Homo sapiens: one gene and its partner. The protein of the gene in region 2 purifies or fractionates together with the protein of the main gene of each other region. This does not show direct contact. Each region holds a gene or a part of one and is shown on either strand. Other genes may lie near its edges.

Region 1 (3,750 bases), on a different chromosome or scaffold from region 2:
AGGTTGAGCAACTTGGAGAATACGGCTAAACATTAATAAAAAGAAAAGCTAATGGAGTTAGAATTACTTAGAAAATAAGGTTGGTTGAGAATGTGCCATCGTTCTGGGAGTTTGAATGGGTGATATGAGAACGTTAGGGAATTTGTCTAGGCCTCTAGAATTGGATCGCTTCTCCCTCGGGGAGATAGCTCACACACAGCTGTGCTGCAGGGAGGAGAGAGGGAGATTCTATTACCTGTGGCCGCTTTTATTTTAGAAGCTTTTGGTGTTAGTATCCTGTTCACCAGCTGAACTGAGGTAGTTTTGTGAGACTTGACAGTGACTATTTTGTTGCAGAATTGACTAAGTTTTGCTCTTTGAGAACTAGATGTGTAGTCAAAGTATCTGGCATCTATGGAGTGCTTCCAGTTTGGAAGGGGGATGCAAGCTTCCCTGGGGAGGACAGGTTGAACAGGACATAGCTTCTGCCTTTGAGGGTCTGAGAATCTTGTAGAGGCATGGATGTGAGTGTAGCACAAGGCAGCGTGCAATGTGTTGATATTACTAGGAGAGTGGTACCAGGAGAACAGGCTGCAGAGGAGCTGGATTCAGAAGAAAAGCAAGACAGACTGAGAAAGTGTGGCTTAGCCGCGGTATGGAGGATGGATGGTAGCACAGATAGGCTGCAGGGCCCCTAATTTGAGTTCCTGCACAAAAACGACCATAATATCAACATTGTACCAAAGCCAAGTGATCTCAGGGAGAAAAATAAAAGATGCCTTCCCTGGCGAGCACATCAAGGTTTCAGTCGCTTGGCTGTGTCCTTGGGAATTTTCTTGAGTCCCCACTCCCAGGAGCCACATCAGACCCCACTGACCGTCCAACACAAATTCCTCTAGATGGAAGGGATGGATGATGACCCCGAAGACCGCATGTCCTACTTAACCGCCATGGGCGCGGACTATCTGAGTTGCGACAGCCGCCTCATCAGTGACTTTGAAGACACGGACGGTGAAGGAGGCGCCTACACTGACAATGAGCTGGATGAGCCAGCCGAGGAGCCGCTGGTGTCGTCCATCACCCGCTCCTCGGAGCCGGTGCAGCACGAGGAGGTGAGGCGAGGCAGGCCACGGGCAGGAACAGGAGAGCCTGGTGTTTTCCTTGCACTCTCGTGGACAGCTGTGTGTTCAGGGTGCTGTGGAAGGCATTCCTAAGGGTTGGAGCAGATGACTTCCAGGGAGTCTCTCGCTTTGAGTCCACGCTGGCATGGTTGCAGTCTGTGGGAAAGTGGGGCAGGCAGGTGGACTTCAGAAGAGCTTGAGGGGTCAGCACTCCGCACACCCATGCCCTCAGGTGCGATGGATAAACAGAATGGCTTTAGGTGCCGTCTGTCCAAATTACCAGCGGAACCTTCCTTCCCATGCAGTATTGTTGTATGTACTTGTAACCTTTGATTAGGTTTCTCTCTGTACTCTTAGATGTCCTTGCTTTTCTTCCCCATCCTGCCTTTAACCTTTCTAATCTTGCCAAAGCTCTTGAGTGTTTCCCCATCAGTTTCCTTCTCTCTTATATTTCAGTTTTTTAATTGAGTTCATGATCAAACCTTCATCTGATCACATCACATGTACTGTGCATCCACTGTGATTAGATAGCTTATGGGATCCTTGAAATCACATTGACAGGCACTGTAAAGTCACAGCCAAGTTAGCAATTATTAGTTGCACCTCAGAGAATGTTGGAATAATGATCTTTGAAGATGGGATTGTTCATATATTTGGATAATTATTGCTGTGGATTTCTCTCTAGCATTTTAGCTCATTCCAGTAAATGATTTTTTTCTTTATGAAATAGAACTACCAAAAAAAAAAAAAAAAAAAAGTTCAACAACAACAAACTGAAGGGGGAGAAAAATACACCATTACCACAGCAACAAATTAGTTTATGCTAGACAACTTGTAAAGAATAAATTAACTTCCAAATGCCTATAGACATGGATATTAGTGACACAAGAGATTTTAGACTTTTGGAGGGTTCTTAAAAAATTGTGCTTTAAAGGAAGAGACTCTACATTGGATGCAGCCAGTTTTTAAAAATGTGTCTGAAGCATTTGGTGATGGTTTCTGCCTGTTCAGTAAAGAAGCACCGGCTCAGAACCTCAACTTCTGGACTTACTCAAGTTTGCAGAACTCCTCCAAAGCAGTCGAGTGCTCTGTTCTCTCTGCTTGGATGTTCTTGTTGTGAATGAACCTTTATGTCTTGTAGAGCATAAGGAAACCCAGCCCAGAGCCACGAGCTCAGATGAGGAGGGCTGCTAGCAGCGATCAACTTAGGGACAATAGCCCGCCCCCAGCATTCAAGCCAGAGCCGCCCAAGGTACGTGGCTGGGAAGCCCAGGATGGGAAGGAAGAGGAAGCAGATGCCTCTGAAGCCTCCTGGACGGCCAGGGAGGAGCATGCACACTGAGATGGTGTTTAATTACGGTTCTGACTCACTGTGTTCTCTATTAGAGCCTATCTTTTGGCCTGTTGGGTGAACTCCCAAATTAGGGAAGGGCAAAAAGGAAGGAAAGGCAATATTAGGAGAGCATATGATTTTAGGACTGTTAGTGTTTATTTAATTTACTCTTCTTGTTAAAAAAAGATTGTAAAGAAAAAGATTGAAAAATACTGTACTGTATACCCAGAATCACCAATCGCAGAACGTGTTTTTCTTTTGCTGTCCAGCTAAAGTTTTCTGCCCAGTCTGATTTAGATGCACCAGATAATTCTTACTGGTGATGTGCTAAAGAGAATAATCATCACCACTGCTTACAATGCCTCTCATTAAGAGAGCTGCTTATTTGTTTAATAAATCATTATCCAGAGCAGAATCAATATAAAGACACAAGGGCTTATATCAAAAGATTATTTACCTTTAGTCAGAATCAGAGCTGTGACTCTATGTTTTTCCTTATACCAGAATAAAACCTATTTAACTCAATAATTTATTATTTATTATTACTATTTTTTGAGACAGAGTCTCACTCTGTTGCCCAGGCTGGAGTGCAGTGGTGCAATCTCGGCTCACTGCAACCTCCACCTCCTGGGTTCAAGTGATTCTCCTGCCTCAGCCTCCCGAGTAGCTGGGACTTAGAGGTGTGCACCACTATATTCAGCTAATTTTTGTATTTTTAGTAGAGATGGGGTTTCGACATGTTGGCCAGGCTGGTCTCGAACTCCTGGCCTCAGGTGATCCACCCACTTCGGCCTCCCACAGTGCTGGGATTACAGGCGTGAGCCACTGCGCCCAGCCTAACTCAATAATTTAGATGAGAAGAAAGCCATAATTGATTGTGTGAGCCATCAGAAGTAGTAAATGTGATAGGTACTAAGTAATAATAAGTGACCTCATAAAATACATCAGCGAAAATTTGCAAGCCGGGCAAGACTGGAAGTGTGAAGGAAAAGTGGCTGTTAGCGTGAAGCAGTGCTCTCCTCGCTCCCCACCCCAGTCTCATTCCTCAGCTGGACATGGGTCTCACCTGGGCCGGCTCATGTACCCTCAGTGCAGCAGTGACCTCAGAAGCCCACTCTTCGAGTCCCAAAGCCTGAATTGTTCTGAGATCTTCTCCAAGATGCTGATCTCCTCTAGAACAAAATTATTCCAGGTCTGATCTTACCTCCAGCAATCACAGCCCTCCCAGCACTTTCCCTATTCCTTTTTGGCTTCCTGACATTCCTAATAGACTAGTATAGGAAGGGAGGTAGGGCTCAGGAAGCCTGGCCAGTGGCT
Region 2 (3,750 bases):
GACTCAAATCTCTGCCTGTGTGTGGAGCTTATATTTCAGTTCTACATTTTGGAACTCTCTGCTACTTCATAAGAAGCCAGTTAAATGTCAAAATCCTGAAAATGATCTGTTGAAATCCTGAGCACAGGCGCCAGACATATGCTACAAGTGTTATTTAAAAACTAACTAGAGGCAGTGTTACATATGATCATAGCTCTCCATCAGGTTCTTTTAAAACAACACACTAGCGAGAAAGCTCTTTTTATCCGCCTCCATCTGCTGTTGGTGGTGATCAGCATACTGTGGGCATTGTGGTATCATCCGAGATTAGGCTGTGAAATAGGAAGTGGGGTTACAGGCAGATCCGCAAGTGTATGCAAACTGTTGAGTTCTATCTCTTGCTAAAACCAAGGGTGCCCAATTCAGGTTTGGAGAGTAGGGAAAGTAAGGTTATCAGCGCATTCCTATCAGGGTCGTTTTCTTTTTTGCACTGCTCTTGTTCTGGTTTTATAAGGAGAACACAAGCAGAGTCTATGGAAAATAGTTGCCAAAGCATACAGGAAATACTCCTTATACTGAACAAATGCAAGAAAACAGAACGGGTTAGAAACCGAGGGAGACAAAAAGGCAGTGGGTGCCAAGGACTGTGAAAAGCAAATGCAACGATAGAGACAGCACAGTCTCAGGCTTATTTTTCAAAAATTCTCATTGTAAGCCTCTTTCCTTTCTAAATGGAGACTATCTTAACACTTTAGCTCGCATTAGACTTAATTTAATAAGAAGGTTGTAAACCACAGCTGTTAAAGTCTTGCCACTGCCCTACCGGATTCTTCGCATCCTGTAAGGCACAATTCGGAGTTCAGCTGGTTGATAAGGAAGCCAGGCATTGTGGCATCTTCAAGTACGAAGTGAAGCACAGGAAAGAGCCAACTCCGGAGAGTAGCTCTTCATTGCTTGAATCATACATATGCTTGTTTTTTCCCCCCTCTCCTTTCTGGTCTCTATTATTAACAAATATTTCATCCTGGCACAACAGGCACAATCAACAACTGGTTAAGGAATGAGTAGTTACTGAAGTCCCAACGCCTCTCAGTTATTTTTCTCACACTCACTGTATTCTAGACCTAGAAGCCAGCTCTCATTTGAAAGCTGAGGTTCAGAAGGGTGAAGTGCCAATAAATGGCAGAAGCCAGGTCTCTTTCCTGATTCCCATTCCAGCTGAGCTCCTCCTGCCACTGGATCACCATCAAAGACCTGCCAAAGCTGTTACTTCCGGGTTCGGTGCTGCCACAGTGCAAACGGGGATGACTTTGGACAATGACCCTGTGGCCCCCGCAGGGCTCGCACCCTCAGGCCCGTGGAAGGCTAAATGCTGACGGACTGGTTCTGCCCTGGAGCGGCTCTCCGCGTCCCAGGGGTCTCCTCAGTCCCGAGTGTGCACAGCGGGTCCTGCCACGTACCCTGGCGACCCCAGCAATGGACTCAGTGCCCCGGGTCCCTTTCCGTCTCCCTCAGGCGGCGTGCAGCACTTTTTCGGGTGTCCCAGTGGAATTTCCGGGCCCGTGAACGACTGACCCACGCCCGGCCGCAGCTCCAGGGGCCGACGAAGGGAGCGCTAGGGCCCACGGCAGGGCCGTCTTTGCCCGGGCTCCATTCCTGCCACCCTGGCGCTATGTCCGCCCTTCCCTGGTTTTCCCTACGAGCGTTTTTTTAACGCTTCCCACTCCTTGTTTACAAAGTGCTGAGCCCCCTTGACCGCAGGCTCCCGCGCCGGCCCGAGTTCCCACACCGTACGCTGGCTGCCCCCTATTCGGATCCCCGCCGGGCGCCGCACCCCCTAGCCACCCCAGACCGTCCCGGAGACCCGCGCCCGCCCAGCTCGCCCGGGCCATCACGTGAGCCTCCCGCCCCGCCCCCGCGCGTCACGTGAGCCCCGCCCCCGCGCCGGCGCGCTCCGACGTGCCCTGTAACTTACCCTCCCTCAGAGGCCAGCCTGCGGGGACGGGCCGGCCGCGGCCGTAGCCGTGTGAACGCTCTTCGGGCTCGCGTCGTCGACCCGCAGCCGCGGGGCGGACTAAGAAGGGAGCCGCCTGCTGCGAGGCCGCCGGGCTCCCGGTGAGGTGCAGGGCGCGGGTCCTGGCGGACGGAGGGCAGGTTGGCGAGGCGCTGCACAAAGGCGCGCCGGGGCCGGGCTGTGCCCGCCGAGGGCGGTGGAGTCGGGGGGAGGCGTGTGCGGGAGGCGCGGCGGCGGCGGCGGCGGCGCCGCGGAGGTGCGCGCAAAGGGAGGTCGGGCGCGCAGCGAGGGGCTCTGGGCGCGGGGGTTAGGCGCCGAGGGGGAGGGGGCCGGCGCAGCCTATTGGCTGACGTGGGCGAGAGGGTTTAAATGGCCCGAAGTTGTGGCTTCTCTGCCCCCTGGGTTTCCTGACTTCCTGTGTGAGGGCAGCGCCCGCCCGCCCCGCCCCCAGGGAGGAGAGTGTGAGGGTGCGCGGGTGTGTGTGTGAGTGCGGGAGAGTGCGCGCGTGTGTGCACAAGGCGGGTGTGTGCGTGTCTATGTGCAAAAGGCGGGTGTGTGCGCGCGCGTGTGTCTGCAAAAGGCGGGTGTGTGTGTGTGTGTGTGTGTGTGCGCAAAAGGCCGGCCCGGCCCCTCCCGCGCCCTGGGCCCACTCCCTAATCGCGGTGGGGCTTGCAGGCCTCCACCCACCCGGGGAGCCCACCCGGGGAATCCACCTGGGGCGTCCCTCGAGGACTGTTGACCTTAAACCGGACACTTTCTTCTTTGCGGTCTTTCCCGGTGCCCTGCCCCTGCTGGATGGACGTGCATTCGCTCCCCTCCAGCTTATCTGGGCGGAATCTCCTCAAAGTCCTTGAATTGAAAAATCCTCTTTACCAGCGTGCAGCCCGCCTCCCATCTCAGGGGAGCTGGTTGTCTTCTCAGAACGGCTGTCCTTTACGCGTTGCTATCTTAAGTGACTGCAGACCCTTTGAGAAGAAATGGCCACACGGTCTTCGTTAGAGAAAAAGGCACGCCCTTCAGCTTTCGAGGCGTGTGATGTTTTCCTTTTGACTGCAGCTGCAGTTTTGTAAATGTATTTTCAAAGGCTAAAGCACGACGTTGAAAGTACACCTTTATCGAAAGTTTTAATGTCATCCCAAGTGGAGTGTTTGTTGTGGATAGAGGCTTTTAGCACTCTAATAACACGATTGGTTGTGGCTGGCTTTTGGGTTAATCATGACATTGAGAAGTAGATTTTATCGACTATTTAGGCATGCGTTCCTAAAGGGAGGTGGTGGAGGAAGGAAGGCTCACTCGGGTTCTGATTCAGGTTCTGCCACCCGACTTCTAGAGGTTAGACCTTGGGAGACTCCGGGTGTTTCAATGGAAGTGTTAAAAATAAGTATCTAGCCCCTAGCCACGCCTCTTTCATACTTAAAAGTCGGGAACGATGGCCTAGATGTGTGTGTACTTGCCCATATCGCCTTTTCTTTATCTGTAGGAGGGTGTTTTACAGAATCGGTCATCTTCCTCTACCTCCTCTGGTCTGAATAGGCATTTTGGCTATTTTTATTTTGCCTTGGAAACGTTTCAGAGCTGGGTTTTGAGAGCCCAAAGCAGGCAGTGAAAGCGTGACCCCCACCCATGCCACCTGACGAGCCAGACCGTCTGCGCACATATGTGCGACCCCTGGTTGCATGCGGCTCCACTGTTCTAAAAGTGTTTCTCTGTGGGGGAAAAAGAAACCCCAGAAGTGTAATATAATGTGTGTATGTATA

The links. The genes of interacting proteins can lie anywhere in the genome.
Region 1: the proteins of ARHGAP12 (region 2) and TJP2 purify together in Homo sapiens (co-immunoprecipitation; 3 studies listed by BioGRID and IntAct, with this or other methods). This does not show direct contact.

Annotation. Positions count from the first base shown.
Region 1 is NC_000009.12:69,247,134-69,250,883, forward strand, and holds part of TJP2 (tight junction protein 2), read left to right. Parts: intron 1-878; coding exon 879-1,091; intron 1,092-2,241; coding exon 2,242-2,352; intron 2,353-3,750. UniProt on the Homo sapiens protein: Plays a role in tight junctions and adherens junctions. Acts as a positive regulator of RANKL-induced osteoclast differentiation, potentially via mediating downstream transcriptional activity.
Region 2 is NC_000010.11:31,927,027-31,930,776, reverse strand, and holds the start of ARHGAP12 (rho GTPase-activating protein 12), read left to right. Parts: upstream 1-1,945; 5' UTR 1,946-2,094; exon of another isoform or gene 2,095-2,115; intron 2,116-2,733; exon of another isoform or gene 2,734-3,750. UniProt on the Homo sapiens protein: GTPase activator for the Rho-type GTPases by converting them to an inactive GDP-bound state.